7 separate regions of the Homo sapiens genome follow, and regions 1, 2, 3, 5, 6 and 7 are each linked to region 4. The links come from fine-mapping of genetic effects on gene expression. A gene starts in region 4. Each other region holds a variant in brackets. All regions are shown on one strand. Distances are between the middles of the regions.

Region 1 (4,068 bases), 280 kb before region 4:
ACAAAGACATAGGTGAAGGAGGAAGCTTTCACTCTCTGAAAATAGAGTGAAAAACTAGAAAGCCAGAAAGTGCCACTAGATGAGAGAAAAGGATGCTAATATAGGATTTCCTTTTTTTTTTTGAGACAGAGACTCGCTTTGTCAACCAGGTGGGAGTGCAGTGGCGTGATCTCGGCTCACTGCAACCTCTGCCTCCTGAGTTCAAGATGCAATTCTCCTGCCTCAGCCTCCTGAGTAGCTGAGTAGCCACCACACCTGGCTAATTTTTGTATTTTTAGTAGAGACAGGGTTTCACCATGTTGGCTTGGCCAGGCTGGTCTCGCACTCCTGACCTCGTGATCTGCCTGCCTTAGCCTCCCAAAGTGAGCCACCATGCCCGGCCTTTTTTTTTTTTTTTTGAGACAATCTCTCTCTGTCGTCCAGGCTGGAGTGCAATGGTGCGATCTCAGCTCACTGCAGCCTCTGCCTCCTGGGTTCAACCAATTCTCTTGCCTCAGCCTCCTGAGTAGCTGGGAGTAGAGTTGTGCGCCATCACACCTGGCTAATTTTTTGTATTTTTTAGTAGAGACAGGGTTTCGCCATGTTGGCCAGGCTCGTCTCAAACTCCTAATCTCAGGTGATCCTCAGGTGATCCTCCCAAAGTGCTGGGATTACAGACGTGAGCCACCGTGCCTGGCCCTAATGTAGGATTTCTTCAGGAGCAAAGTAGAAGTGGGAAGGGATATTTCAATCACGTTAGTGCCCAAGCTGGGAATAAAACTACCTCCTAATCCCAGTGGTCCCTGGGAATGGACAGATCTTACTGCTGGTAACTAACGAGAAAGGGAAGAATAATAATGATTGTCATAATCCTAAAATAGCAGCTAACATTCTTTCACCCCTTACTCTATGCTAGATGTTGTATTGAGCATTTTCAATTTCTGAAATATCACAATGAATGAGGGAGATGCTTTATTATCCCATTTTACAGATGATAACTGAGTCCCAGAAGGAAAAAGAAGCAGAGCTACAGTGAACATAGAGGGTTAGGTACATGACCTAAAAGTAATTCAGATTTACTTGTCATTTCAGTCCAGTAAAGAGAATCAAACAACCTCATTTCTATTGCTAATGTGGCAATGTTGACTACAAACAGTAAGATTCCTAATTCTGATTTACTTGTACCATGAGGGCTCAATCAGCTTGCAGGGAGGTCTGAGTAAATGTGAAGCCCCAAACACACAACACAACTCTAGGCAGCAGTGCTGAACATCTTCTCTACTCTGAGCTTCTCACCAGCACTCTTAAAAGGAAGCTCCTAAGAATGTCCTCAGTTCTGTTTTCCTGTTTGTTCTTTAATGAAGACATTAATGATTCAGCAAATGTACCAAATAGTAGTGACAGGAAGAGAAGTTAGCAGGTTTCATTATATTTATATACAGGAAAAATGGATCCAGAAAGGGAAGAATGTTTTATAACTGAAATATAAATACTAGCCTCAGCTACCAATTCTATCCCATGAAACATAAGCAAATAAGACAATCTCATAATCAAAACAATCAATACTTTTCTTGAAGTGACAGTTACAAAAGGAATATATGTTTTTAGAAGGAACAGTGATTTCGCTAGACAAATCAAAGATGACATAGTCTTACACTAATAACATCTTCAGAAGAGGTCTTTGATTTTGCAAAACCAGATCTAGCAATC[T/C]TACCTGATGAAAACCAGCTTGACCTTTGATGGGGCAGTCTTAATAATGGCAGATGCATTTTGGTGACTTCTTCCATACAGAATCTGATTGTTTATCTGTTTGGGAAAAACCACAATGTACTAAATTATACATGTCTACAAGTATATATGTATATACTTGGAATTAAATGATAAAGTCTACTGAATTTCTTTTCTTTTCTTTTCTTTTTTTTTTTTTTTTTTGAGACAGTCTCACTCTGTCGCCCAGGCTGGAGTGCAATGGTGCAATCTTGGCTCACTGCAACCTCCGCCTTCTCGGTTCAAGTGATTCTCATGCCTGAGCCTCCTGAGTAGCTGGAATTACCAGCATGTGCCACCACGCCTGGCTAATTTTTTTGTATTTTTAGTAGAGAAGAGGTTTCACCATATTGGCTAGGTTGGGGTTGGTCTTAAACTCTTGGCCACAAGTGATCTGCCTGCCTCAGCCTCCCAAAGTGCTGGGACTACAGGTGTGAGCCACCACACCTGGCCCTAAGTCTACTGATTTTTTTTTTTTTTTGAGGCGGAGTCTCGCTTAGTCACCCAGGATGGGGTGCAGTGGCATGATCTCGGCTCACTGCAACCTCTGCCTCCCAGGTTCAAGCAATTCTCCTGCCTCAGCCTCCCGAGTAGCTGGGACGACAGGTGTGCACCACCATGCCTGGCTAATTTTTGTATTTTTAGTAGAGATGGGGTTTCACCATGTTGCCCAGGCTGGGTTAGGACTCCTGACCATGTGATCCTTAGGCCTTGGCCTCCCAAAGTAAGTCTAATGATTGTTAAGTGGGTATATTAGGACTCTCAAATGCTAAAAATCTTAATATTCTTTGTAGTAGAGATTCAAACAGTAATTCTAAACAGCTATCAAAAATCCTTAAATTCAGTTTTGACTACAGTTAATGAAGAACATACAGTCCTTTATCCTTTTGCTAAACTTCAAGAAAGCAGTAGTTAAGCCTGATACAAAAAGTTTAGGACACATATTTCATTTCCTACAGCTTTCCCAGATTCCTTAAAAATGTTGAAAACAGACCAAATTGTGGTATTCACTGGAGCTCTGGAGAGCCCATTAAACATGATTTTGTAAACATGTCAAGGTTATTACATAACATAAATTTGTTACTCTAGGGAAGGTAAATATTATATCCCTGTTTTAAGTCAAATTTTAAACCAACTACACAGAAAGATTTTACTGAACGCCATCAATGAGTCATATGCTCATATCCAAGACATGGTAGAATTTTAAACTTGATTGGATCTACCAAAAGATGACCTAAACAACATTTAAATTCTAAATTTCTTTATTCCTGATTTTCCCACTGATAAACTATGATGATAGCTGGAAACTCTCTTATTTTATTTCACCCAATTGATAACAGCTCATACAGTTTTGACTTTTTCCTTCTATCTCTTTAAAAAGTAGTTAATGATCTATAACTATACTATTCCTATTCAAGTGTGGCATTGACAATTTCTACTATTTAAGAGATAGTATAGTGTACCATATAAGGGACAGTAAAAGGAATTGCAATTAGCATCTAATTTGTTCTGTCTCTGGAATTTTGCATTTTAAGGCACACCTGATGTTCCTTTCAAGACATCTAAAAATGTTATTTTTTTGTCAAAATAGTTATAATGTGACAGCATGTGGAAGTGAACACTTTAAAATATGAAATGAAAATATAGTATTTTCAACTATCTAAAAAGTGGCCCTTCCATCACCTTTCCTAAGTGGTAAAGCTGGGATTCATATCCAAGGCTGATGGAAAGACCAATCTTGAGCTACCTCCTCACTCTGCCTCTTATTCTATCAGCTTTCGTTCTGCACCAAGATCATCAATCTCACCGGGCACAGTGGCTCACACCTGTAATCCCAGCACTTTCGGAAGCCAAGGGAGGCAAATCACTTGAGGTCAGGAGTTCGAGACCAGCCTGGCCAACATGGTGAAACCCTGTCTCTACTAAAAATACAAAAATTCAGCTGGGTGCCTATAGTCAGCACTTTGGGAGGCTGAGGCAGATGGATCACTGGAGGCCAGGAGTTCGAGACCAGCCTGGTCAACATGGCGAAACCCCATCTCTACTAAAAAATACAAAAGTTAGCTGGGCGTGGTGGTGCATGTCTATCGTCCCAGCTACTTGGGAGCTGAGATGGCGCCACTGCATTCCAGTGTGGGTGACAGACTGAGACTCTGTCTCCAAACAAAAACAAAAACAAAAACAAAAAACAAAAATTAGCTGGATGTGGTGGCACACACCTGTAGTCCCACCTACTGGGGAGGCTGAGACAGGAGAATAGCTTGAACCTGGGAGGCAGAGGTTACAGCAAGCCGAGATTGCGCCACTGCACTCCAGCCTAGG
Region 2 (4,068 bases), 300 kb before region 4:
CACGCCTGTAATCCCAGCACTTTGGGAGGCTGAGACGGGTGGATCACGAGGTCAGGAGTTCAAGTGGGCAAGATGGTGAAACCCTGTCTCTACTAAAAATACAAAAAAATTAGCCAGGCGTGGTGGTGGGTGCTTGTAATCCCAGCTACTCAGGAGGCTGAGGCAAGAGAATGGCTTGAACCCAGGAGGCAGAGGTTGCGGTGAGCCGATATCACGCCACTGCACTCCAGCCTGGGCAACAGAGAGAGACTCCGTCTCAAAAAAAGAGAAATAGCTAATGTTTGTAGCTGCAGCACATTAGACTGTAGAACGAACCCACAGGTTCTGTTAGTAACCCTGCAAATGGCCACCACCTCTGGTCCCAGAAGAGAGAGATTCTCACATGAAGAGGCGTCAGCTGAAAACATTCATCTAATTATGCACATGTCCCCTTAGGGAAAGGAAAGCGTTCCTTAAATAAATTAGAGGAACCTTTACTTTTACATTTCTCAGCAATATGCATATTGAAGATAAGATATTCTTGGTCTTTATAAAATGAATACTAAAGTAGAGGAGAAAACAGCTGTTTAAGGGATGCGTCAACCTGTAAAATTTAAGAAAACATGGGCAAAGCAGTCTAGGTTCCAAATAGTCTATGCATCCTTTAAGATGTGAATAGAAACAAAAAATACTCTCTATGTCTACACCACATCCCACACTTAGAAACTAGAGGATCAAATGAAGCAGAATTTATCATTCAAAGCCAGGTCTCAAATGTCACTTGTTCCATTGTATCTTTTCCTTCTCCTTACCTGGGGGACATCTCTCCTTCCTCTAAATTGTAACATTCTACCTGAACCTCCTCTGTCACTTAACATTCATCTCTTTTGTATCCTAATTATGCATGTACAGAACTGATCTCCCTGACGGGACTGAAAGATCCTTGAATCGAGCATCTGGGCCTCATTCATTCCCACTGCCTGATTCATTTTTCACCCTAGGTCTGTTTTACTTCAAATTCCATACTCTTTTTAACTGTACTACGCCTCCCCACTTTTCCTCTTAGTCTGAGATGACTCCGTAGAGGAGGGTTTGAAGTCCAAATCTAGATGGAGTTGGGAGTCAGGCAAAAAGGAAGTTGGAATTGAGGGAGGATAGCAATAAAGCATTTACTTTCTAGGAGAGCTAAAGTCTGTAACAGTTTGATGTTCACATTCATGTTACATTACAAGTAGAGCTAAAGTTGTAATGTTTATGCTAAAATGAGGTACAGAACATAACAATGTGGATCCTTTCCCTCCCTCCCTCCCTCCCTCCCTTCCTTCCTTTCCTTCCTTCCTTCCTTTCTTTTTTCTTCACCATCTCACTCTGTCACCCAAGCTGGAGTGCAGTGGCATGATCACAGCTCACTGAAGCCTCGACCTCTTGGGCCCAGGTGATCCTCCCACCTCAGCCTCCCAAGTAGCTGGGACTACATGCATGCACCACCATGCCTGGCTAATTTTTTGTAATTTTTGTAGAGACAGGGTTTCACCATGCTGCCCTGGCTGGTCTTGAATTCCTGAGCTCAAGCACTCCTTCGGTCCTAGCCTCCCAAAGTGCTGGGATTACAGGCATGAGCCCCTGTGCCTGGCCACAACAATGTGGATTCTGCTCTGAGAACAGAATGGCTCATGAGGTAAGGAGTCTTCAAAATACCCCACTCACCAGGAGCTTGGAAAATAGCCAAGAGTCTGATATGGGAAAGGGAAAACAGGTCAGCAGCGTGATTTCTAAGGCACGAGTGAATTAGAGTGGTTTGAGGACCATCTGGCTGACGGATGGGGGCCAGTTGACACCCAAGATGACTCAGCTAATC[C/T]GGATGGCTGGGTGTTCCTGTCGTCTCTTGCTGATCTTCAAACCACCTGTCCAAAGCTGCCTGCTCAGCCAGGCAGCTTAAGGAGAACAACTTCTCCCTATGAGATCACAGTCAGTGGATTCCACAGTCAATTATGTTTTGTAGATGAACAAACAGAAAAGGCAAGACTTGTAAGGTTTGCAGATCAACCCCTACTGAGGTTAGTCTTTTTCAGACCTTTAGGAAGTTCCAAATTCCCTCCCCTGGGCTCTCCCAAAATCTTCCACATAAGTGATTGCAGAAGTGATAATGCTTATTATTTTAAACTCCTTTTTTTTTATATCCACCATTTGTCTATAATTTTCTTCAAACTGAACAGCGAATCTTGATAGCAAGAATGCTATTTTATTTGAGAGTAGGCATTCAATAAAAGTTAAATTCGTTAAGGATGTTATTGTGGATTGAAAAAACATTTCCTTTTTTTTTTTTTTATTTGAGACGGAGTTTCACGGTTGTTGCCCAGGCTGGAGTGCAATGGCACGATCTCAGCTCACTGCAACCTCCGCCTCCTGGGTTCAAGTGATTCTCCAGCCTCAGCCTCCCGAGTAGCTGAGATTACAGGCGCACGCCACCACACCCAGCTAATTTTTGTATTTTTTTTAGTAGAGACGGGGTTTCGCCATGTTGGCCAGGCTGGTCTTGAACTCCTGACCTCAGGTGATCCGCCAGCCTCGGCCTCCCAGAGTGTCGGGATTACAGGCGTGAGTCACCGTGCCTGGCCCATTCCCATATTTTCTAAATCCAATGTTCTTTTAGAAAACACACAAAATAATTTTAGTCTCATCGCCAACCTAAATTCACAAATATTTCCCTCTGCAAAACCTTGTTTACCACATGTGACAAACTGAATTTCTTTCTTCTAACCCCAAACGTGAGCTTATTTACTAGGCTGCTCAGAATTCTAGAAAGGCAAGGCAAAATTAAAATAAAATGGAAATTATGCTAATGGAACTCCCTGCATGATCAACCTCCCTGATCTTTATGAGGCCTGTTCCATCTCAGTTAGTACTTTAAAAAACACAACTTCTAAGAAAGCAAAAAGGAGGTCCTTGTTTGTATTGAAGATATTCTAAAAGATTTAGGCTGTCCTGTCAATAAATGGAATAAGTATGTCGGAACCCAAGTTATTTGAGCCCTCAGTACCTCTTACTAGACGACAGCAATGGCTTCTTAATTGGGTTTCCCTCTTCAAGATGTCTTTAACATTGCTATTAGACTAATCTTTCTGGAGTACAGCCTTGATCAGATTGTTTCATTGTTCAAAATGCCTTCAACAGCTCCGAAACCAAAGAATGAAATTCAGACCCTCTGGGATTTAAATGTGGAATCTAAAAAGTTGAACTCATAGAAGCAGAGAGTAGTGGGAGGGGCTGGTGGATGGGGTGAAGGTTGAAGACATGTTGGTCAGAGGATGCAAAATTTCAGTTAAAGTAATAAGTTCTAGAGATCTGTTGTACAGCAGGGTGACCACAGTTAATAACAATGTACAACAATGTACTGTATTCTTGAAAATCTCTAAGAAAGTAGATTTCAACTGTTCTCACCACAAAAATAAGTACGGGAAGAAATACATATGTTAATTATCTTGTTTAGCCATTCTACAACATACACATATTTCAAAACATCATGTTGGCCAGGTGCAGTGGCTCACTCCTGTAATTCCAGCACTGTCTCGAGGGGCTGAGGTGGGAGGATCTCTCGAGCCCAGCAGACTGGGCATGGGCAACATAGTGAGATTCTGTCTCTGCAAAAAAATCTTATAGTAGCCAGGTATGGTGGTGCGTGCCTATAGTCCTAGCTGCTCAGGAGGCTGAGGCAGGAATATTATTTGAGCCTGGGAGGTCGAGGATGCAGTGAGCTGAGATCATGCCACTGCACTCCAGCCTGGCAACAGAGCGAGATCCTGTTTCAAAAAATAACTGCCCCCCCCAAACCAAAACCAAACAAAAAAACCCATCATGTTGTATATGATAAATATATACAATTTTTATCAATTTAGTTTTTAAAAGGAAAAAAAATCCTGTTTTGTATGTAACTATTAAAAATGGAAGATGCTGGAGGCTGGGAGTTCTACTAGAGGGCTGTGATAATATAAGTACAATCACAACAAAAATGAGGTCTTATCATGTGCCAGGAATAGTGCTAAGCCTTTTATAAACATTACTTAATACTTCTAACAAGTCCATAGAATT
Region 3 (4,068 bases), 370 kb before region 4:
TTTAATGAAATCATTCAACAAAGATGAGTCTTCCATTAAGGAAGAAGCCTGGCTAGACAACTGTTTCGTTTGTTGATATAAGTCTGGTCAATATCATCACTAACTATTAACTCATGGAATCCTACAGCAGCACCATGTCTTAGATATTTGCTGCCCATTATGTAAGCCAGAAATGAAAAAAAAAAAAAGTGTTTCAAACTTAATATGGTGTTTATTGGGTTTGACTGCTTTGAAGATTCCCTAAGACAAGCCAGCTAGTCTGTAATCCTATCTGAACAATGGTATTTTCCTCACTCATTTTTTAACACCAGTGAGGAACAGGAGGCAGCTAATAGCTTTCCAGAAGTAACTGTGTGCTAACTGTAAGATCAGAGCACCTTCTGAACAAAGGCCTTGGAGAGGCTTCAGAAATAAGGCAACCAGGGAGGGGACCAAAAGTCATGCTTTTAACCTCAAAACTAAGGCGGCCTATCCATAACCCAGAGAGGAGACTTAGGGGTCACATATAAGTTTCTATAGTCTCATTATGTACCACATGGGGCTAACCATACAGTCTACCATCTTGATTTTGTCAGCCATTACAATGAAAAAAATATAGTGAAATATACTTTGCTAAAAAAAAATGGCACTTACATCAGCTTTGCAAATAAATATAAGATGTTTGCTAACCCACAAAATATCACCCACTAAGCCCTCCCTCCCACAGGAAAAACCCCCACACTTGGTTCTCCTAGGAATATGCCATTAATTGCCCTCGGCATGTGTGAGTGGCTAGTCACAAGTTAACTTTATAGCAATATTTAATTGAATGAATAGAACAATGTTGTGCTAATGAGGGTCAAATTGCCACCAGATGTTGCCTTTTTTTTTTTTTAAATAAACACAGCTGTGTACATGCGTGCATAGGCAATATAGAACTAATAGAGAGAAAAGAGCTTCCAAGAAAACATTTGCAAGCAATAAAGGAGAGAAAAATCTAGGGATTAATGAATTTCCATCCCACCTTTCATTTTTATTTCAAACACATGAAAGTTCACTAAACTTGGTGCTGTGAATATGCTGTACATTAGATATTATTTCCAAACAACCATTTATTAAATGGGGAACTTTCTCCCAGTGGGGGCAGAAGAGTGAGTCAGTCTGATGAGAAGCCATCGACAACCTGACTGTTCTGTGATGTCGTCCTTGCGGAGGTCCAGGAACCAGCTCGGAGTCTTCCAATCTCTAGCTGCACAAGTCCCTGTGCACACTTGGAAAGGCAAGAAAAGAACAGAAATGAAAAGTAGTAGCATTTATATTCTGAAATATCTTAACAGAGCCTCTCCCTGCAGCCACAAATTATAAAAGGGTAATGAAAGCAACAGGCATAGCCCTAGAGAGAGGAGGATGAATTCTGTGGCTCCTGGAGGGCCCATCTCATCAAATGCATTTAAAGAACAGTGATGGATACTTAGAATTCTCACAAGTATGAAAAACTTGCTTGTGAAATCCCAAAGCAGGTTCCCTTTCATTCTGTTAGTCAATATAACAGAACTTTCTTTTAAAGCTATTCTGGCTCATTTAAAATAATCAGAGATTAAATTTCTAGTAAAAACTAGAGTTAGTATAAAATCCAACCCATTTTATAATCAAGCTAGACTGGAACAGTTCCCACTGGACTTCAGTTGTGCCAGCTGGGTAAAAAGCAGCCTAGCAACTCACCTTGAGGATGGTGGCCACTGTCTCCTGTGAGGCATTTCTCATGTCCTCCCCATTCACAGATAAGATCTGATCTCCCTGAATCAATCTCCCATCCAGGTCTGCGGCTCCGCCTTTCACGATGTCAGAAATAAACACTCCG[C/T]TTCCATTTCTGTTAATACCATACAGCAGTGCAGTATTGGCACAACCTAATATTTCCATGCATAATACGTGTGTGTGTGACAGGATGCACACACATATATGCTCCTTTCTTCTTCCAGTTTTGTTTTCTTTTTGTTTCTTTCATACCTTGGTAATTTGCCTTTATCAGCACTTGGAGCTTCCTCATTTTTTAAATAGCTACATACTATTCTATGATGTTTCATAATTTCACTTACCAGTAGCTTACTGATGGACATACAGGTTATTTCCATTCTTTAACTATTGCAATGAGCAATGAATACTTGTAAGTATATCTTTAAGATAAAGTCCTGGTGATGGAATTGTTAGTCAAAGAAAATAGTGACTTTTGAGAACTATACATCTCATCCTTTACAATGCAAGTTTTTGTGCTAAGGAATGTAAATGTTCCTTACAAACTCAACCTGAAATACTGACATTCACTAAAAGCAAAAAACATTGCTGTAAATAAAACCGCACCAGGTATACGCATGTGTCAAAACAAGAAAGCAAACTTCAACACTGGCTCTGTCAGTTGCTCTGCACCCAGATGTGCACTGATTTTTGTTTAGAAATGTAAGAGACTCAGCTTTTTTTGTTTGGTAATGCATTTTCAGAGTGATGGTTCTATGGTGCTGAAGTAAAAAAAAATGAAATTATGACAGCACAATACTTGGCCCAAAATCAGTACTCAAAAATTGTAGCTAATATTTTTATTTTAATAACAGCTTGGCCTGCTGGACAGACACTAGGCTAGTCACCAGAGGTCTGTGAGGGCATATAACATAACATGCATAAAAGCAACTTGATTTCTTCCTTAACAAGATGGTTGATACACTTTAAGGCCATATTAGGATATTACCTGGAAATCCTATAGCCCTGTTGGGATAAATACATACTAGATACCTAAAAGCCAGTAAACCATGGAAGCTAGGCTTTGTTTCAAGCTATTACTTACCTTTCCAATTCACTGCAAGAGAAACTTAGTAATATTATCCTGGAACAAACGACTGTTAAGCAGTATAGACTTCATTTTTCTTTATTTAAAAAATTTTTTTAGAGACAAGTCTTGCTATGTTGCCAGACTGATATTGAACTCCTCACCTCAAGCGATCCTCCCAACTCAGCTTCCCAAAGTGTTGGGATTATAGACGTGAGCCACTATGCCTGGCCTAGGCAACATATACCTCTTTTTATTTATTTATTTATTTTTGAGATGGAGTTTCGCTCTTGTTGCACAGGCTGGAATGCAATGGCGTGATCTCAGCTCACTGCAACCTCCACCTCCCAAGTTCAAGCAATTCTCCTGCCTCAGTCTCCCAAGTAGCTGGGATTACAGGCGTCTGCCACTATGCCTGGCTAATTTTTTGTATTTTTTAGTAGAGATGGGGTTTCACCATATTGGTCAGGCTGGTCTTGAACTCCTGACCTCAGGTGATCCACCCACCTCGGCCTCCCAAAGTGCTGGGACTACAGGCATGAGCCACTGCATCTGGCAGCAACATATATTTCAAAAGAGTAGCCTGGCCACTAGGATCTACCTACCTACATTTTTGGTGCAAACTATTACTTTGGGGACATCTTTCTTTTTTCCTTTTCTTTTTTTTTTTTTTAATTTACAGATGGGGTCTTGTTATGTTTCCCAAGAGGCTCAAGTGCAGTGGCTATTCACAGGCATGATCATAGCACACTATAGCCTTGAACTCCTGGCCTCAAGTGATCTTCCCACATAGCTGAGACAACAGGTACATGCCACTGTGCCCAGCAGGACATTTTTCTTAATAGAAAACTACTATCGTGAAGAATTATGTTTATCTCTTAACTATGTCTACTCAACTAGTTTCAACATAGTATGAAATTAACAGTATCACGAAAAGCAATGTTCCATGTTAATTTCCATGTCGAAGCAATGTTCTTGACCCAACATTGGATAAATCTCATTCTTGATGCTAGCTATTTCTTGGGTATGGTTGCTTTAATCAACCTCTGCAAAACTCCGATCTTAGTAATTCCAAGTGAAAGAACCTTGCTAGTTGTTCTTACTCTGTACAGAAATATATCAGTCTGGATTGATTGGACTTGGAGTTCTATCTTGATATGACAATTTTTCTGGTAAGACCTTGCTCAGAAATATGACCCATGTTGTCAAATTTTCATAAATATCTTATTTTTAGAAATCCCATCACTACTTTACATTAGGCTTTCTCTTTC
Region 4 (4,068 bases):
AGCTTTTTCTGTAAAGACAGCCATGTTGCTCAGGCTGGTCTCCAACTCTTGGCCTCAAGCGATCCTCCTGCCTAAGCCTCCTAAGTAGCTGAGATAACAGGCATGAGGCAGGTTGCCAGGCCTGATAAGATGCTCTCCATAACACCTGCCCAGTAATGGCATCTTCAACAATGGCCAACTCTGGCTTTCAGTCTGCAAAACCAATAAACTCTGTTTTCACGCAGCTTATCTGCACTTACTTTGCCAATAAAAGTTTCCTTTTACCCTCCCCTCTTCCATGCATATATGGCTTGCCAGGCCTGTGCACCTCGGGCTATAACGCTCATTTCTCATTCCCAAATAAATTCAACACATTTGGAGTGTTTTGTTGTTGTTGTTATTGTTAACATCTTAAAGGCCATTAGGGGCCCTAAAAACATCAAAGCTCACTTTAGCTAAAAGGCTCAATCTCACCTAACATTTTCTAATGCTGCAAACAGATTTAAGTTTTTAACCGCTGCCCCTGCCTCCACTCCTTTCAAATAGATGTGTGCAAATTAATTTGCAGCCAATAGGAATTTAGCCCAGAATGTGGTAGTATCATCCTCAGTGGAACCGACATTGTCCTTCTGGGTTTCCAAAGGCTTCTGCCTTCCTTTAAGAAACACTTGTCGCGCACCTACCAATAGCCAGACCCTAAATGCAGTCGAAAAATAAGGCCCTGAAAGGGGCACCCTCTAAATGGCAGAGGCAAGCCAGTAAACAACCAACTGGAATTCAAAGTGACAAGAGCCACTTGGAAATATGACAAAGTGCCAAGTGAAGGGGTGTTCACTTAATTCGGCCTGCGTGCGGGACGGCTGGGGCGCTTTGGAGAGTGGGAGTGATCTGAAAATGCTTTCCTGAGCTTGATTTAAAAGCAGGAGTCCAGGAATTTCCCCTAAGGCTGGAAGCACTTTCCGACAGAACCTCCCCATCTACGCAGCAAGGCTGGCAGAGCCCAGGGCCTGACCGCTGGCTTGGGAACCTCCGCTACGGGATGACCAGGCGCCGCGACGCGGCCGGGCCCAAGTCGCCCCCTCAGCCCGGCTCTGAGCACCCCCTCCTCTTTGTCCCCTCACCCCGTTCCCTCCTTCCACGGCCACCGATGGAGGGAAAGACTCCGCCCAGCTCTGGGAGCGAAACAGGGGCACCGATCTGGGCGCAAAATAGGATCCGTGCCACCCCCGAATACCAGTGGGCCGAGATTCGAGGCCCGAAAGGCCTGGGGAGGCGGGGCGGCGCCCCTCCCTGCCCGCGGCCTCGGCGAGCCCTGCGCGGCGGGGCGGGGACCACCGTGGGGTCACCCGGGCCCGACGCAGGAGGACGGCGCCCCCGCCCCGCCTCCCGGGTCAGCGCGGACGCACGCCGCGGGCGCCCCATCCTCGCCGCGGCCCCTCTGAGCGCCCGGCGGCGCCCTCCACCTCCGGCTCCCACCCACTCCAGGCGGGCGGGCGGGGAGAGCGCGGGGGCAGGGCAGGCAGGCCCGGGAAGCCCCGAGGGAGCTGCCCCCGGCCGGCCTCCAGGCGCGGGGACACCCAGGGGCGAGCGCGCACTGCACAGCCGGGACCTCACGCTTTACCTGGTGCGCTGGAGGAGCAGGTGGGAGCCCGGGTCGGGCGGGCTCGGTGTCGGCCCTGCCTCACCTGGGCGGAAGTGAGAGGCCCAGGGTGACCGCGCCTCACCTGGCAGGCCCTCCCCTCGCCCCGACTCTCCCCGCCCGGGGCGGGGCACCGGGGTGGCGCAGGGGGCGGGGGAGGGAGCCCGGGGCCGCGGGAGGCGGGCTCCAAGGAGGGAGGACGGTTGCCCTGGCTGTTTACGTGCAGGTGAATTCCTACCGGGCGCGGGATGGCCAAGGGCCTGGGAAAAGTGGGCTGTGGGGGCGGGGTGGCGGATCAGACCGCGCGTGGTGGGGACAGCCGCCACTGACGGGGAGGGAGATCCGGACAGACCGGTGTGGTTGGAGGCCTGCGTGTAGAGCGAGACCCAAGATCAAGGAAATTGAGGAGGATATCGATGAAAGCGTTGGGTCAATCCGCTTAACACTTTGTCTTTTTGCCCCTTTCCTTTCCTGTTCTCTCATCCCTCCTTTGTTTTCTCTATTCGCTGACGCAAAATAAAATATTCTAAAACGTGTAAATGTGGGAGTCATTATTTTCTTCTCATTTAGTGGAAGAAAGAAATCCAGCAGTATTTGCCTGCTGTATGCTAGGTGCTAGCTTATGCAATGTCTCATTTACTCTCTGAAGAAACTAATGAGGAAACCGTGCACCCTGTAGGTTGACTGGCCCAAAGTTTGGAACACAGGCAAGGCATTTTGACTCTAACTACAGTGATGATTTCACTATACGTTAATTTTCTTTTATTTGTGATGTCACACCTTCGAGAAAAATATGTCCCGATAGCCTTCTTCCACTCCCTTTAATAACTTTAGGCTTTTGATGATAGGGGTTTTACTTTGCCTGATACAGTCCACACATTAACGATAAAGAGAATCAATCTTCAGGTATCTTATTCATAGAGTACATACAGTAATTGTTAAACACTGTGATTGATTGTGGGAAGATGTGTAAAATGGTATCCCTGTCCCCAGGAAGATGAGGAATAGATACAAAACAACTACAACATAAAGACTTTCAGGCGGGGCGCGGTGGCTCACGCTTGTAATCCCAGTACTTTGGAAGGCCGAGGCGGGTGGATCACCCGAGGTCAGGAGTTCGAGACCAGCCTGACCAATATGATGAAACCCCGTCTCTACTACAAATACAAAAATTAGCCGGGTGTGGTGGATGCGTAGTCCCCTCTACGCAGGAGGCTGAGGCAGGAGAATCACTTGAACCCAGGAGGCAGAGGTTGCAGTGAGCCAAGATCCTGCCACTGCACTCCAGCCTGGGTGACAGAGAGAGACCCCGCCTCAAAAACAACAACAACAACAACAACAACAATTAGCCCGGAGTGGTGCCGTGAGCTTGTAGTCCCAGCTACTCTGTGGGGCTGAAGTCGGAGGATCACTTGAGCCCAGGGGTTCAAGACCAGCCTGGGCGACAGAGCAAGACTCCATCTCAAATAAATAAATAAATAAATAAAATTAAGATCATGCACTTGGTGCTTTGTAGTTTGCTTCCTTGTTTTAAAAGAAATGTAACACTTGTTAGTCATGGTAAGAAGACACACAATATCAGCATGGTTTCTGCTTTTTAGGAACTAACAAACTACTGAGGGAAATAACAGGCAAATTGCCAGATGGAAGCCAGACCTCAGAAAATGAAGAGATCTATTATGTTTTTTGAAAGCATGGGTTAGAACTTAAACAGGTCTTAACCAGAGTCTGAGATTAATTTAGGTAAAATGGAGAAGGAAAGGCTTTCCAAGTCGGGGGCAAAATAAAGTTGGAGATTGAGTGGGAAAAGGGAGAGGATTGAAAAACTACCTATCAGGTACTATACTTATTGCCTGGGTGATGAAATAATCTGTATATCAAACCCCATGGCCTACAATTTGTCTATGTAACAAACCTGGTTTTTTTGTTGTTGTTGTTGTTTTGAGACAGAGTCTCGCTCTGTTGCCCAGGCTGGAGTGCAGTGGCACAGTCAGCTCACTGCAACCTCTGCCTCCCTGTTCAAGCCATTCTCCTGCCTCAGCCTCCTGAGTAGCTGGGATTACAGGTGCCAGCCACCACACCCGGCTAATTTTTTGTATTTTTAGTAGACATGGGGTTTCACCACGTTGGCCAGGCTGGTCTCAAACTCCTGACCTCGTGATCCACCCGCCTCAGCCTCCAAAAGTGCTGGGATTACAGGCGTGAGCCACTGCACCTGGCCTACAAACCTGTGCATGTAGCTCTGAACCTATAATAAAAATTAAATAGGAAAAAAAAGAAAGGTGGAGACCAATTATCTCAAAGAATCACCTTGCAAACATTGGTCTCTTCTTTTTAAATTTATTTTTATTTATTTATTTTTTAAATTGAAATTGAATCTCACTATGTTACCTAGGCTGGCCTCAAACTCCTGGACTCAAGCAATCCTTCCACCTTAATATCCTTCTTGA
Region 5 (4,068 bases), 38 kb before region 4:
TTTCAGATGTGTGGTCATAATTCACCACTGGAAGACTTAAGTGTGTCTGTCCTATATGACTCCATGGGGAGCGGACTCGTGGAAGCTTGTGCCTGGTTTCCTCCAGTCTCCACCTCATGCACCTTTTCCATGTTGATTTTGCTTTGTATTCTTTCACTGTAATAAATATAGCTGTGGGTGTAACTGTATGCTGAGTCCTATGAAACCTCCTAGCAAGTCATCAAATCTAGTGGTCTTGGGGACTATTTTAGAAACATAGAATTAAGCCAAGAAGTCAATTGCCCAGGGTGAGAGGTGGATCCAGAATTCAAGCCTTCATCTGTCTGATTCTAAAGCTCACACACTATAATCCTATGCTCTTTCCTTTCAGAGGCTAATTTGGATGTAGGTGTGCTGAGAATTTCTCCAAAGGTAGATAATAGGGAGGGTGTATACCACATCTTGTGCCATAGCCTAGGGCCTGAGGGTGCTGCAGCTTAAGTCATTTCATGAGTTATAGAAAGCATAACATTGACTGGTAATAAGCAACAAATGGGGCCAGGCTGAGGAAGGAGATAAGTTGGTTATAGCAAGAAGGCTGAAGAGATTTTATCTGCCATCAGCTGACATGAGAGGAAAGGAGAAGTGAATAGTGCTCTGTCCCCTATGGCTAGGCCTTACCATATGCCCTAGAAGAGATAATAGCTCTCTTGTTCCTAGAGCTGGCTACTCCCTGTTGATGGATGTGAACAATTGTGCACAGGTGTATATCAGGAAAAGGAAAACACTAGGATTAACTTTGGATAAATTCAAACAACAAAGCTCAGACTTCAGAATCAAACAGGTACGGGCTCAATCCTGACTTTGTGGCTCACCTAGCTGCTGTAACCTAGGGCAATTTCTTAATGGTTTCCATATCTATAATTTGGGAATAAAACTTCTAAGAGTATTTTGAAGGTTACATGAGAATAATGTACATTAAGCAGATAACAATGTCTGGCGTAAGTACTTCCTTCTCTTTGAGCACTTATGACCCTATGACAAGCATACCCTCTACCTCCTCTTTGATGATCTGAAATAGTGACGATCCCTTCCAGTAAAGGGCGAAAATCAGACTTGGGCTTTTTCCAACAATGCCTCAATGGGATTAATCTGGGAAACTCTGCACATCTTATTCTTGTGAAAATTCATAAAGCATGTTAGTATTTTAAAAGCTCAGAAAATTCTTACAGTAAAGAAACCTATTGGATTTTGTTTAAATTTACTTGACCCTTTGTTGTTCACAATAACCACTCCACTTTGCATTTTGGAAAAAAAAAAATGCCACTCCAACAAACAAACCTATTAAAATTGCTAAGGCAGAGGCAGGAGGAGGGAGGGAATACAAAGAAAGGCATCCCAAAATTTTCTGCAATATTTTATTATTTCCAGGTTATAAAAATTTTTTTTAAGAATCCTTAAAGAATATTGTGTTGTGCCACAGATGTGTGTGGTTTTTGTTTGTTTGTTTGTTTTGAGAAAGAGTCTTGCTCTGTCGCCCAGGCTGCAGTGCTGTGGCGTGATCTTGGCTCACTGCAACCTCTGCCTCCCAGGTTCAAGCAATTCTCATGCCTCAGCCTCCTGAGTAGCTGGGATTATGGGCATGCACCTCCACACCTGGCTAATTTTTTGTATTTTTAGTAGCGACGGGGTTTCACCATGTTGGCCAGGCTGGTCTCGAACTCCTGACCTCAAGTGATCCACCCAGCTCGGCCTCCCAAAGTGTTGGGATTACAGGCATGAGCCACTGCACCCAGCCACAGATGTGTTTTAAAGGTCTATAAAATGAACATTCTCAAACATTCTGGTCTCAGAACTTGCTACAGTTTGGATGTTTGTCCCCCCCAAACCTCATGTTGAAATCTCATCCCCATTGTTTGAGGTGGGGCCCAGTGGGAGGTGTTTGGGTCATGGGGGTGAATCCCTCATGAATGGCTTGGTGCAGTGAGTTCTTGCTCTGAGTTCTCTGCAGTGCGTTTACTTAGTGCAGTGAGTTCTCACTCTG[ATTGT/T]TAAAAAGAGAGTTGCCCCCCACCCACCACTTCCTCGCTGCCCACGTGATCTCTGCACACACTGGCTCTCCTTCACCTTCCACCATGGAAGCAGCCTGAGGTTTTCCCCAGATGCCCAATTTTCCAGCCAGCAGAGCTGTAAGCTAAATAAACCTATTTTAAATTACCCATCCTCAGATATTTCCTTATAGCAACACTAAATGGATAAAGACAGAACTCCTTTACATTCTTAAAAATTATTAAGGATGGAGGGATAGGAATTACAAAGTAGTACGGGAATCTGCTGGGGGTAATGAATACGCTCATTATCTTGATTGTGGTAATGATGGTATAACAGTTAAATTACATGTGTCATCTGGGCTGTGGTGCTGACTGTTTTGGTCAAACACTAATCTAGATGTTGCTGCAAAGGTATTTTGTAAATGTGATTAGCATATACAAACAGTTGACTTTAAGTAAAGGAAAATTACCCTCAATGATGTAGGTGAGCCTCATCCAATCAGTTGAAGAATTCACAAGCAAAAACTGAGCTTTCCTAGAGAAGAAATTCTGCCTCAAGAATGTAACAGAGCTTCCTCAGACATTCTGCCGGCCTGCCCTATAGATCTCAAACACAAGACTACAACATCAACACTTGTCTGGGTTTCCAGCCTCCTGGCCTTCCCTACGTATTTTGGACTTGCCAGCCCCCACCATGGCATGAGCCAATTTTTTAAAATAATATCTTTTTTAAAGTAATCACACGCATGTCCTATTGGTTCTGTTTCTCTGGAGAAATCTGGTAAAGATGAATCCACAAATGTATACATATGCAAAAATTGGTACTGAGGAATTTTTAAAATATTTAATATTTAGTATGTTAATTTTTATCATTTATGTATATTATGTCATTATATTTTTAAAAGAGCTATATTTTCCAAAACAAAAAATATTCGCCAGGCTTGATGGCTCACACCTGTAATCCTAGCACTTTGGGAGGCCGAGGCAGATGGATCATAAGGTCAGGAGTTCCAGACCAGCCTGGCCAACATAGTGAAACCCCATCTCTATTAAAAATGTAAAAATTAGCCAGGCATGGTGGCACATGCCTGTAGTCCCAGCTACTTGGGAGCCTGAGGTAGGAGAATCGCTTGAACCTGGGAGGCAGAGGTTGTGGTGAGCCAAGACTGCACCACTGCACTCCAGCCTGGGCAACAGAGCAAGACTCCATCTCTCTCTCTATATATATATATATTAGTAAGAGTGGGACTGTTTAATATTTTTACAAATCTCTTTAATATCTGGCTTAAAACAGCTGGACTCATCTGCTTCTGCATTCAGTATGTTACAATATACTGTTTTGGATGATGTATATGAAGAATATCTGGCCTCAATCAGATATATAGTTGGAAAGGGGAGGGGTATTATAATAGTCCTTTCAGCCTATTCTTTGATAACACACCAAAACTTGGCAAGTGGTGGTTTCTTATACAGTTACAATGTAGAATCTGGAACCATATCAACAAACTTTCAGACACTATTTTATTAAAATCCACTGATCTATCTTGATTTTTGAAAGGATCTTTTAGCTACATATTATTTTGTCATATCACATATTGGTCTTCAGAAAATATTGAGGCTGGGTATGGTGGCTCACACCTATAATCCCAGCACTTTGGAAGGCCTAAGCAGGAAGATCGCTTCAGGCCAGGAGTTTGAGACCAGCCTGGGAAACAAAGCGAGACTGTCTCTACAAAAAATAAAAATAAGGCCAGGCGGGTGCAATGGCTCACACCTGTAATTCCAGCACTTTGGGAGGCCAAGGCGGGAGGATCACTTGAGCTCAGGAATTTGAAATCAGCCTGGGCAACATGGTGAAACCCCACCTCTACAAAAAATAGAAAAACTAGCTAGGCATGGTGGCCTGGGTCTGTAGTCTCAGCTCCCCCAGAAGCTGAGGTGGGGGGATCACTTGAGCCCCAGAGGCAGAGGCTGCAGTCAGCCAAGATAGCACCACTGCACTCCAGCCTGGGTGACAGAGTGAGACCCTGTCTCAAAAAAA
Region 6 (4,068 bases), 170 kb before region 4:
GAAACCTTGTCTCTACTAAAAATACAGAAATTAGCTGGGCATGGTGGCACATGCCTGTAATCCCAGCAACTTGGGAGGCTGAGGCAGGAGAATCCCTTGAACCCAGGAGGTGGAGGTTGAAGTGAGCCAAGATCACGCCACTGCACTCTGGCCTGGCGACTGAGCAAGACTCTGTCTCCCAAAAACAAAAAAAAAAAAGAAAGAAAAGAAAATTATAAAAATTAATTAAAAGAAATAAAAGAATTTAACAAATTAAAAAATCATATTAATGGCTTAAAAGTCTCAACATCCAAAAGATATAACTTCTTTCTAAGTTAATCTATAGATTCAACAAAATTCCAACCAAAATCCCAAAAGAAACTTTTGTGGAATTTAATAATCTGATTCTAAATGGATATGGAAAATAAAAATGATATAAATAGTTAAGACATGTCTAAGAAGAAGAAACATATAAAAGAAAGTGCTCTATCAGGAAAAAAGATTGATTACTAGGCTTTAATAATTCCGTCAGTGCAGCATTTGTACTGGGATAGACAAGTTGATCAAATGGAACAAAGAGAAAGCTTAGAAACAGACTCCCCCTTGTAACCTGAGATACAGCAGAGTTGGACTGCAAATCAGTGGGTAAAGGAGGTCTATTTTAAAACAGTGGGACAGTAATTCCCCAAGAGAACAACAAGTTCTCTTGATGAGAAAAAATGAAAATTCATCCCTACTTGACACCACATCTTAAAATAATTTTTAGGTCAACAGATTCTACTTTAATAGAGGTGGGCAAACAGGAATGGAGGATTAATTCTGATTGACAGGAAGGATAGTTTTCTCAGGAGAGATGACCTTTGATGTGGTCCTTAAAGAATGAAAAGGATTCTTATGGGAGAGCAATGTGGGAAATGGACTTCCAGGCGAGAGCAGCAAGATCAAAGTCTCAGTGTGAGAGGCATGTTCTGGGAATGGACAAACAACCAGCCTGTCTGAACAGGAAAGAAATCTATAGACGTTGATGGCTGACTGGCCGTTTATAGTATTTTTGCATCTATGCTGCACCAGGTTTCTGTCCTCCATCCTGGTAAGAACCAGTCATATTTGCAGGGAAAAAAATTATAAATATAGTGCTCCTACAACACTGACACTCATCAAAAAGCCACTTCTATTATAGCCCAGATATGGAAAACAAAAACAAAAACAAAACAAAAACATTTTTTAAATCCTTGAGAGGTTCAAGTTACCTTTTCTTTCTTTTCTTGGGTGTCCTGGTTCTGGTTACCGGTGATTTTGTTGGCCTTGTTATGTACGTTAGGAATGACCTATGGTGACAAAAAAAGGGGTGGGGGGAAGAAAACGTTTAAACGACATAATCATTCCTTTTTTTTCTCTTGACATTCCACAATGGAGAATTTTTTTTCAATCATTACATTTCTGTTTTTTTCTTTTTCTGAGATGGAGATTCGCTCTTGTCACCCAGGCTGGAGTGCAATGGCACAATCTCTGCTCACTGTAACCTCCGCCTCCTGGGTTCAAGCGCTTCTCCAGCCTCAGCCTCCTGAGTAGCTGGGGTAATAGGCGCCTGCCACCACACCCAGCTAATTTTTGTATTTTTAGTAGAGATGGAATTTCACCATGTTGGCCAAGCTG[C/T]TCTCAAATACCTGACCTCAGATGATCCGCCCGCCTCAGCCTCCCAAAGTGCTGGGATTACAGGCGTGAGCCACTGAGCCTGGCCTATCATTACATTCCTTAATGTATTTGTTTAAACAGCTAAAATCTTAACTTTGTAACTTCATCTAAAGAGTAAAAGTATGAGAAGTACAATTCAAAGCAAACAATAAAACTTGGAAAGCCTGAGAAGATACATAACTCTAAAATATTATAAAGTTATATATATGCCATCAGGGCATAAAAATGCAGGTTTCTGTACGTAGATCCAGAAGCTGAAGACGAAAAAGACTAAAAACAAGTTCACATACTGACTGTAGTCCAAACATCACATTTTGCAAGATAGAGTTTTAGGGGTGATCTAATTAATTATCCAAGAACATAGGATAACACATCTGTTTGACAGATTTACCTTATTCATCATTGTACCCCCAGTTCAAGCATGTTATCTCCCACACTGTGTGTACTCAATATTCCACTATCACTATTAGCATAAGGAGGAATTAACAAATCTATTCCCACCACTGAATAAGCTTAATGAGAGTAGAACTCAGTGTTATTTTTCACTATTTCTCTGGTGCTCAGAAATGGCCTAATACATAGCTGTACATAATAAATGTTTATAAATGAACGAACCAGTTTAATTTTATAAAAAGAAGCTCCTCAAAGAGCTAGCACAGATAATCTTGGCATAAAATCTGGTGAGAGACATGAAGATTAAAAGAAAAAAATAGACCAAGTATAGTGGCTCATATCTGCAATCCCAGCACTTTGAGAGGCTAAGGCAGGAGGATCGCTGGAGTCCAGGAGTTTGAGACCAGCCTGGACAACAAAGGGAGACTCCATCTCTACAAAAATTTACAAATTAGCTGGGTGTGTTGGCGTGCGCCTGTAATCCCAGATACTTGTGGGGCTGAGGTCGAGGCTACAGTGAGCCACAATTGCACCACTGAACACCAGCCTGGGTGACAGGGCAAGATCCTGATTCAAAAAATACATAAATAAATTAAAAAGAAAAAGACAAAAAAAAACTCCTTGCTCAGGAAATTAAAAGACTGCCTGCCTGGAGATAATTAAAAACAAAACAAAAAGCCCATTTTCCCCTAAATGCAATTTAAGATTAAATTTTCATTTTTAATATAGAATGTAAATAAAGTTTAGAATGAGAAAGTCTCAGAAACGTGTCATTTACGTAAAAAACAACAGTAACGATACACTAACATATATACAGTGCTATGTGAAGAGGCACTGTGCTACTAGTAACCTAATATTTCTATCTCTGTTTAATACATATAACAACCTAAGACAGATTTCAAAGACTGGTGGGGTTTACAGGCATGTGTTCCTTGTCCTGAAGAATCTTAAACAAAACACTTTGCCTCCCTGACAAGTCAGAAACTATCTGCCCACACTACTACTTTCTCCCATAGAAAAACTAGCTGATGCTAAATAGAAGCTTTGGGATGAGACAGAATGTCAGCTGCCACTCACAATGTTTACGCTGCCTTCCCTCCCCTCCCCTCCTCTCTACCTTCCCCTCCCCTCTTCCCTCCCCTCCCCTCCCCTCCCTCCCTCCCTTCCTTCCCTCCCTCTCTCTCTCTTTCTTATCTTTCTTTCTTTCATTGGTTTGTTCATTCGTTGAGACAGAGTCTCACTCTGTCACCCAGGCTGGAGTGCAGTGGCCACTGCAGTGCAGTCTTGGCTCACTGCAACCTGTGTCTCCCAGGTTCAAGCAATTCTTGTGCCTCATTCCCAAGTAGCTGAGGTTACAAGTGTAAACCACCGCACTCAGCTACTTTTTCTATTTTTAATAGAGACAGGGTTTCACCATGTTGGCCAGGCTGGTCTCCAACTCCAGACCTCAAGTGATCCTCTCACCTCAGCCTCCGAAAGTGCTGGGATTACAGGCGTGAGCCACTGCGCCCAGCCCACTGTTTTTCAAATAGCAGAGAAATGTTCTTCTGTACATATATCTTTAGCAAAATTTAGAAGACAAAATGCTCAATGAGACTCCACCTTTCAGGAAAACAGAAGACTGTATTTCTCGTGAAAGTAAAAATATATTTATAGGTGATTAATATGCAAAATGTTCATGTGTCAAAAAAAGTAGGTACCCTTATAGAACAATGGTATTGGTAAGCACAACTGGAATACAGGAAGAAAGAAAGCAACACGTGATGATAAACATAATGAGCTGAAGATATCCAATTTTTTAATATAAAAATATATATATATTAATATAGAATGAAAATAAAGTTTAGAATAAATGAGAAAGTCTCAGAAATGTGTCATTTATGTAAAAAAACAGCAGTAATGATACATTAACATATATACAGTGCTATGTGAAGAGGCACTGTGCTAGTACCTAATATTTCTATCTCTGTTTAATACATATAACAACCTAAGTCAGATTTC
Region 7 (4,068 bases), 130 kb before region 4:
AAATAATAAAAATAAGAAATTTTATCAGTACAAATTTAAATGACTATTTTATAGCCACCTTAGGGATGTACCATAATTTATTTAAGGTAACACTATGTTATTCTTTATTGCTGGAATTTTGGTTGTTCAAAACAAAATGTGAATTTTGTTTTGAAAATGGTCTACTTTTTCTGTAAAGTGGTCAGACTTCAATGATAAGAGAAGGATCATTCATAAGCCGATATACAAAATACTTCCAGCTTTGCAAAGTAGATTATGAATTTGGTAATGCTGGGCAAGGTAGCAGAGCCCCAGCAACAGAAAGTGATTGGCACGCAGGTAGTAAAGAGAATTTACTGACAACAGCACAGGCTTGAAAAGTCAAGTTTTATTAGACAGAAAGAACACTGTAGTGGGGCGCTTCAGCAAGAGAGGACTGAGTGGGCCTCCGAGGATTTTCCTTAGGGGTATTTATAGACCTTAAAGCAGGAGCGTAAGGGTAATTTGGACCCTATTAGTTTTGCAGGTCATGATAGATTGATTACATTTGTAGACATGTTGGTGCCTTGATGTCAGCAAAGGCTGCACAATGAGTTTCGATATGCATGCATTCAGGAGACATATAGAAATTCTAGCTACTTATAAATTTTTGGGAAAGCAGCCTGGTAACCAGATGCTGGCTTTAGATAACAGGGAAGTCTAATTGCTTCTAAATTCCTCAGATAAGGAGTTTTGCCTCTGGATGGCATAGTTGATGACCACCAGGTAATCTTTGCTCTCTTCATTATACATCTAAATTCCTCAGATAAGGAGTTTTGCCTCCAGATGGTCTGCTTCATGGTCACCAGGTGATTTTTGCTCGCCTCGGGTAAGTATGTAACTATATCAGATAACTAATGGAGCCTAAGGAACATAGAATTCAACTCAAATATTAAATAGGGGTAAGAAAGGGGATCTGACTACATAGTTGCCTAGAATAAAATAAGCAAGAACTTCTTACAGAAAACAGTGAGGATTTGGAAGGAACTGAGCAGTTAAAAAGAAGAAGGTTGTAATTTGGGGCCATTTGGACTTCTTAAACAAAGTTAATGGTAATTCTGTTAATAGTAAATGAAGAAGAAGAAAATTGATATCCAAATCTGGGATTTCAATACATTGGGTATGATAGGTGAGATATTTATAAACAGGAATTTCTGGCTGGGAGCAGTGGCTCAAGCCTGTAATCCCAGCACTTTGGGAGGCCGAGGTGGGTGGACCACTTGAGGTCAGGAGTTCAAGACCAGCCTGACCAACATGGAGAAACCCCGTCTCTACTAAAAATACAAAAAAAAAAAAAAAGCCAGACGTGGTGGCTCACGCCTGTAATCCCAGCACTTTGGGAGGCCAGGGTGGGCAGATAGCCTGAGGTCAGGAGTTTGAGACCAGCCTGGCCAATGTGGTGAAACCCCATCTCTACTAAAAAATGCAAAAATTAGCTGGGCGTGGTGGTGGGTGCCTGTAATACCAGCTACTCAGAAGGCTGAGGTAGGAGAATTGCTTGAACCCAGGATACAGAGGCTGCAGTGAGCCGAGATCACACCACTGCACTCCAGCTTGGGTGACAGAGTGAGATTCCATCTCAAAAAAAAAAAAAAAA[A/T]AAAAAATATATATATATATATATACACACACACACACATATTTATATATATGCGTATATATGTATATATACATATATACACATATATATGTATATACATATATATACGCATATATATGTGTATATACACATATATATGTACATATATATGTATATATATACACATATATATATATACACAAAAAATTATCCAGGCATGGTGGCGCATGCCTGTAATCCCACCTACTTGGGAGGCTGAGGCAGGAGAATCGCTTGAACCTGGGTGGCAGAGGTTGCGGTGAGCCAAGATTGCACCATTGCACTTCAGCCTGAGCAACAAGAGTGAAACTCCATCTCAAAAAAAATAAAAAATAAATTAAATAAACAAGAATTTCTTTTTTCTGGTTTTTTTTTTCAAATAGAGAAGTTTTTTTTTCTAAAAAGAGAAGAAAATAAGAACATAGAATTATTCTTAGGTAAATAACCCTCAGGCAAAAAAAAAAAAACAAAAAAAACAAAAACCAAATCTTTAAAAAATGGACAAAGGACTTGAACAGACATTTCTCCAAAGAATACATAAAGATGGCCAAATAAGCACATGAAAGGATGCTCAATATCACTAATTGTTAGGATAATGCAAAACAAAACATAAGATAGCACTTTATACTCCTAAGAAGCAAACAAAAAGCCAACAAACAAGTGTTGGAGAGACTGTGGAGAAATTTGAAACCTTGTGCTTTGCTAATGGAAATATAAACTGGTGCAGCTGCTTGCTGTAGAGAACAGTATAGCTCCCCAAAAATTAAATATAGAATTAGCATATGATCCAGCAATTCCACTGCTGAGTATATACTAAAAAGAACTGAAAGCAGGGATTTCAACAGATATTTATATACCAATGTTCATAACACCATTATTCGCAATGGCCAAAGGTAGAAACAACCTAAATATCCATCAACAGATGAATGGAAAAACAAAATGTGGTATATATGGTGGGGACCTATAGGAACCTCAGAGTTGGTATTGGTAGTGACAGGAGGCAGAGAAATTTAAGGGCAGGTCCCTGACAAAACCCCACCCTCAAGCCTAAAACCATGGCCCAAACTGTTTTCCTGCTCAAATGTTACCTTTTCCTAAACCACCCATGCCCTCGCCCTGCTCTATCCTGTGCCTATAAAGACCCTAGACTCAGCTGGCAGAGAGAAGAAGCAGCTGGATGTCAGGGACTACAGCTGGACATCAGAGAAAAGCAGCTTGACTTTAGAGGGACAGCTTGATGGTGAAACTCTGGAGAATAATCCAGCCAGAGATGGCTGGACTTCTGGGGAAGATTACCTACCCACCTCCCCATCTCCTTTGCAGCTCCCCTTCCCACTGAGAGCCACTTTATTGGCAATAAAATCCCCGCATTTGCCATCCTTCAATTCATTCATGCAGCCTCATTTTTCCTGGATACCAGAAAGCGCTCAGGAGCCACAAGTGTGGATACAAAAGGCTGTCACACTGGCCCTTTGCCCTCGCTGGCAGAGGGCAGCGGCCTCACGTGAAAAGGCAGAGGGCTCACTGAACTGTTAACACTTAAGCCGTCCGCAGATGGCAGAGCTAAAAGATCACCGTAACACGCCCACTGGGGCTTCGGGGATTGCACGCACCTCCCCTAGATGCTGCCGCTGGGCCTGCACAGAATTTGCTCCTGCCAGTACCCAAAAGCGCTTGCCCAGGCTCCTGCACCCGCTCACCTGAGTGCTCCCCTCCCATGAGGGGTGAACGCTGCAGGTCTGAGTGAGTGGAGTTTACTCTTGCCAGTGCCAAAGCAGTCAGATGGTTCCAGCAGGCATGTACTCCAGTTCCCACCTTGTTCACTCACACACTCCCTCCCTCGAGGAGAGCAGTGGGCTGAGTAAACAGGGCACCTCTGTCACAAGTCCCACAAAGGGGTCAGGGGACTATCTGGCTTCAGTATGAAGATTATTATAAACTAAAGATACTTTAGATTTAACAGATGCAGAAAAAAGCCTTCTCAGAGCTTCCCTTATGTGACTAAGCAGCAAGTTCTAGGAAATGAGGCTATCAAACATTCCCTCTTGAGGTGGGTCGACCCCCAGGAAGATTGAGAGTAAGCTACTATAAATGCCCTCTTGAGGAATGGCAATAAGCAAACAGAAGGATCAGTGGCCCTGCATTTAAAAAATTATCAACATAATCAAAAATGTTAACTTTGGGAGGCCGAGGCGGGCGGATCACGAGGTCAGGAGATCGAGACCATCCCGGCTAAAACGGTGAAACCCCGTCTCTACTAAAAATACAAAAAATTAGCCGGGCGTAGTGGCGGGCGCCTGTAGTCCCAGCTACTTGGGAGGCTGAGGCAGGAGAATGGCGTGAACCCGGGAGGCGGAGCTTGCAGTGAGCCGAGATGGCGCCACTGCACTCCAGCCTGGGCGACAGAGCGAGACTCCGTCTCAAAAAAGAAAAAA

Alleles and levels. Alleles are on the strand shown, and positions count from the first base shown. SD is a standard deviation of normalised expression in the study named. Not every link is listed here.
With allele C in place of T in region 2, the expression in cerebellum of the gene that starts at base 1,676 in region 4 is higher (large effect, 1.5 SD a copy in GTEx).

What was found.
Region 1: its variant is fine-mapped to the expression of PATJ in whole blood (TOPMed, PIP above 0.99). The same link has a PIP of 0.9 or more in blood mononuclear cells, esophagus mucosa, esophagus muscle, fibroblasts, iPS cells and left ventricle.
Region 2: its variant is fine-mapped to the expression of PATJ in cerebellum (GTEx, PIP above 0.99). The same link has a PIP of 0.9 or more in cerebellar hemisphere.
Region 3: its variant is fine-mapped to the expression of PATJ in whole blood (TOPMed, PIP above 0.99). The same link has a PIP of 0.9 or more in sun-exposed skin.
Region 5: its variant is fine-mapped to the expression of PATJ in whole blood (TOPMed, PIP above 0.99).
Region 6: its variant is fine-mapped to the expression of PATJ in atrial appendage (GTEx, PIP above 0.99).
Region 7: its variant is fine-mapped to the expression of PATJ in whole blood (INTERVAL, PIP above 0.99).

The regions. Positions count from the first base shown.
Region 1 is chr1:62,015,573-62,019,640 of GRCh38, reverse strand. It overlaps PATJ (PATJ crumbs cell polarity complex component), which reads right to left. Exons shown (of 44, transcript NM_001350145.3): 29 at 1,694-1,785. The region is part of intron 1 of LOC107984965 (a long non-coding RNA gene); the gene reads left to right. Among named protein-coding and RNA genes, the nearest start is that of MIR3116-1, 61 kb to the left of the region's middle. The variant T/C (reference allele first, on the strand shown) is at 1,690.
Region 2 is chr1:62,043,465-62,047,532 of GRCh38, reverse strand. The region is part of intron 30 of PATJ (PATJ crumbs cell polarity complex component); the gene reads right to left. Among named protein-coding and RNA genes, the nearest start is that of MIR3116-1, 33 kb to the left of the region's middle. RefSeq lists an enhancer at 1,671-2,200. The variant C/T (reference allele first, on the strand shown) is at 1,838.
Region 3 is chr1:62,114,313-62,118,380 of GRCh38, reverse strand. It overlaps PATJ (PATJ crumbs cell polarity complex component), which reads right to left. Exons shown (of 44, transcript NM_001350145.3): 36 at 1,702-1,849; 37 at 1,163-1,249. Among named protein-coding and RNA genes, the nearest start is that of MIR3116-2, 37 kb to the right of the region's middle. The variant C/T (reference allele first, on the strand shown) is at 1,841.
Region 4 is chr1:61,740,088-61,744,155 of GRCh38, reverse strand. PATJ (PATJ crumbs cell polarity complex component) reads right to left here and starts at 1,676. Exons shown (of 44, transcript NM_001350145.3): 1 at 1,601-1,676. PATJ-DT (PATJ divergent transcript) reads left to right here and starts at 1,372. Exons shown (of 1, transcript NR_185910.1): 1 at 1,372-2,158. RefSeq lists a silencer at 1,215-1,924.
Region 5 is chr1:61,777,891-61,781,958 of GRCh38, reverse strand. The region is part of intron 7 of PATJ (PATJ crumbs cell polarity complex component); the gene reads right to left. Among named protein-coding and RNA genes, the nearest start is that of PATJ-DT, 37 kb to the right of the region's middle. The variant ATTGT/T (reference allele first, on the strand shown) is at 2,024.
Region 6 is chr1:61,911,826-61,915,893 of GRCh38, reverse strand. It overlaps PATJ (PATJ crumbs cell polarity complex component), which reads right to left. Exons shown (of 44, transcript NM_001350145.3): 26 at 1,230-1,307. Among named protein-coding and RNA genes, the nearest start is that of MIR12132, 68 kb to the right of the region's middle. The variant C/T (reference allele first, on the strand shown) is at 1,636.
Region 7 is chr1:61,869,112-61,873,179 of GRCh38, reverse strand. All of the region lies in intron 20 of PATJ (PATJ crumbs cell polarity complex component), which reads right to left. Among named protein-coding and RNA genes, the nearest start is that of MIR12132, 25 kb to the right of the region's middle. The variant A/T (reference allele first, on the strand shown) is at 1,616.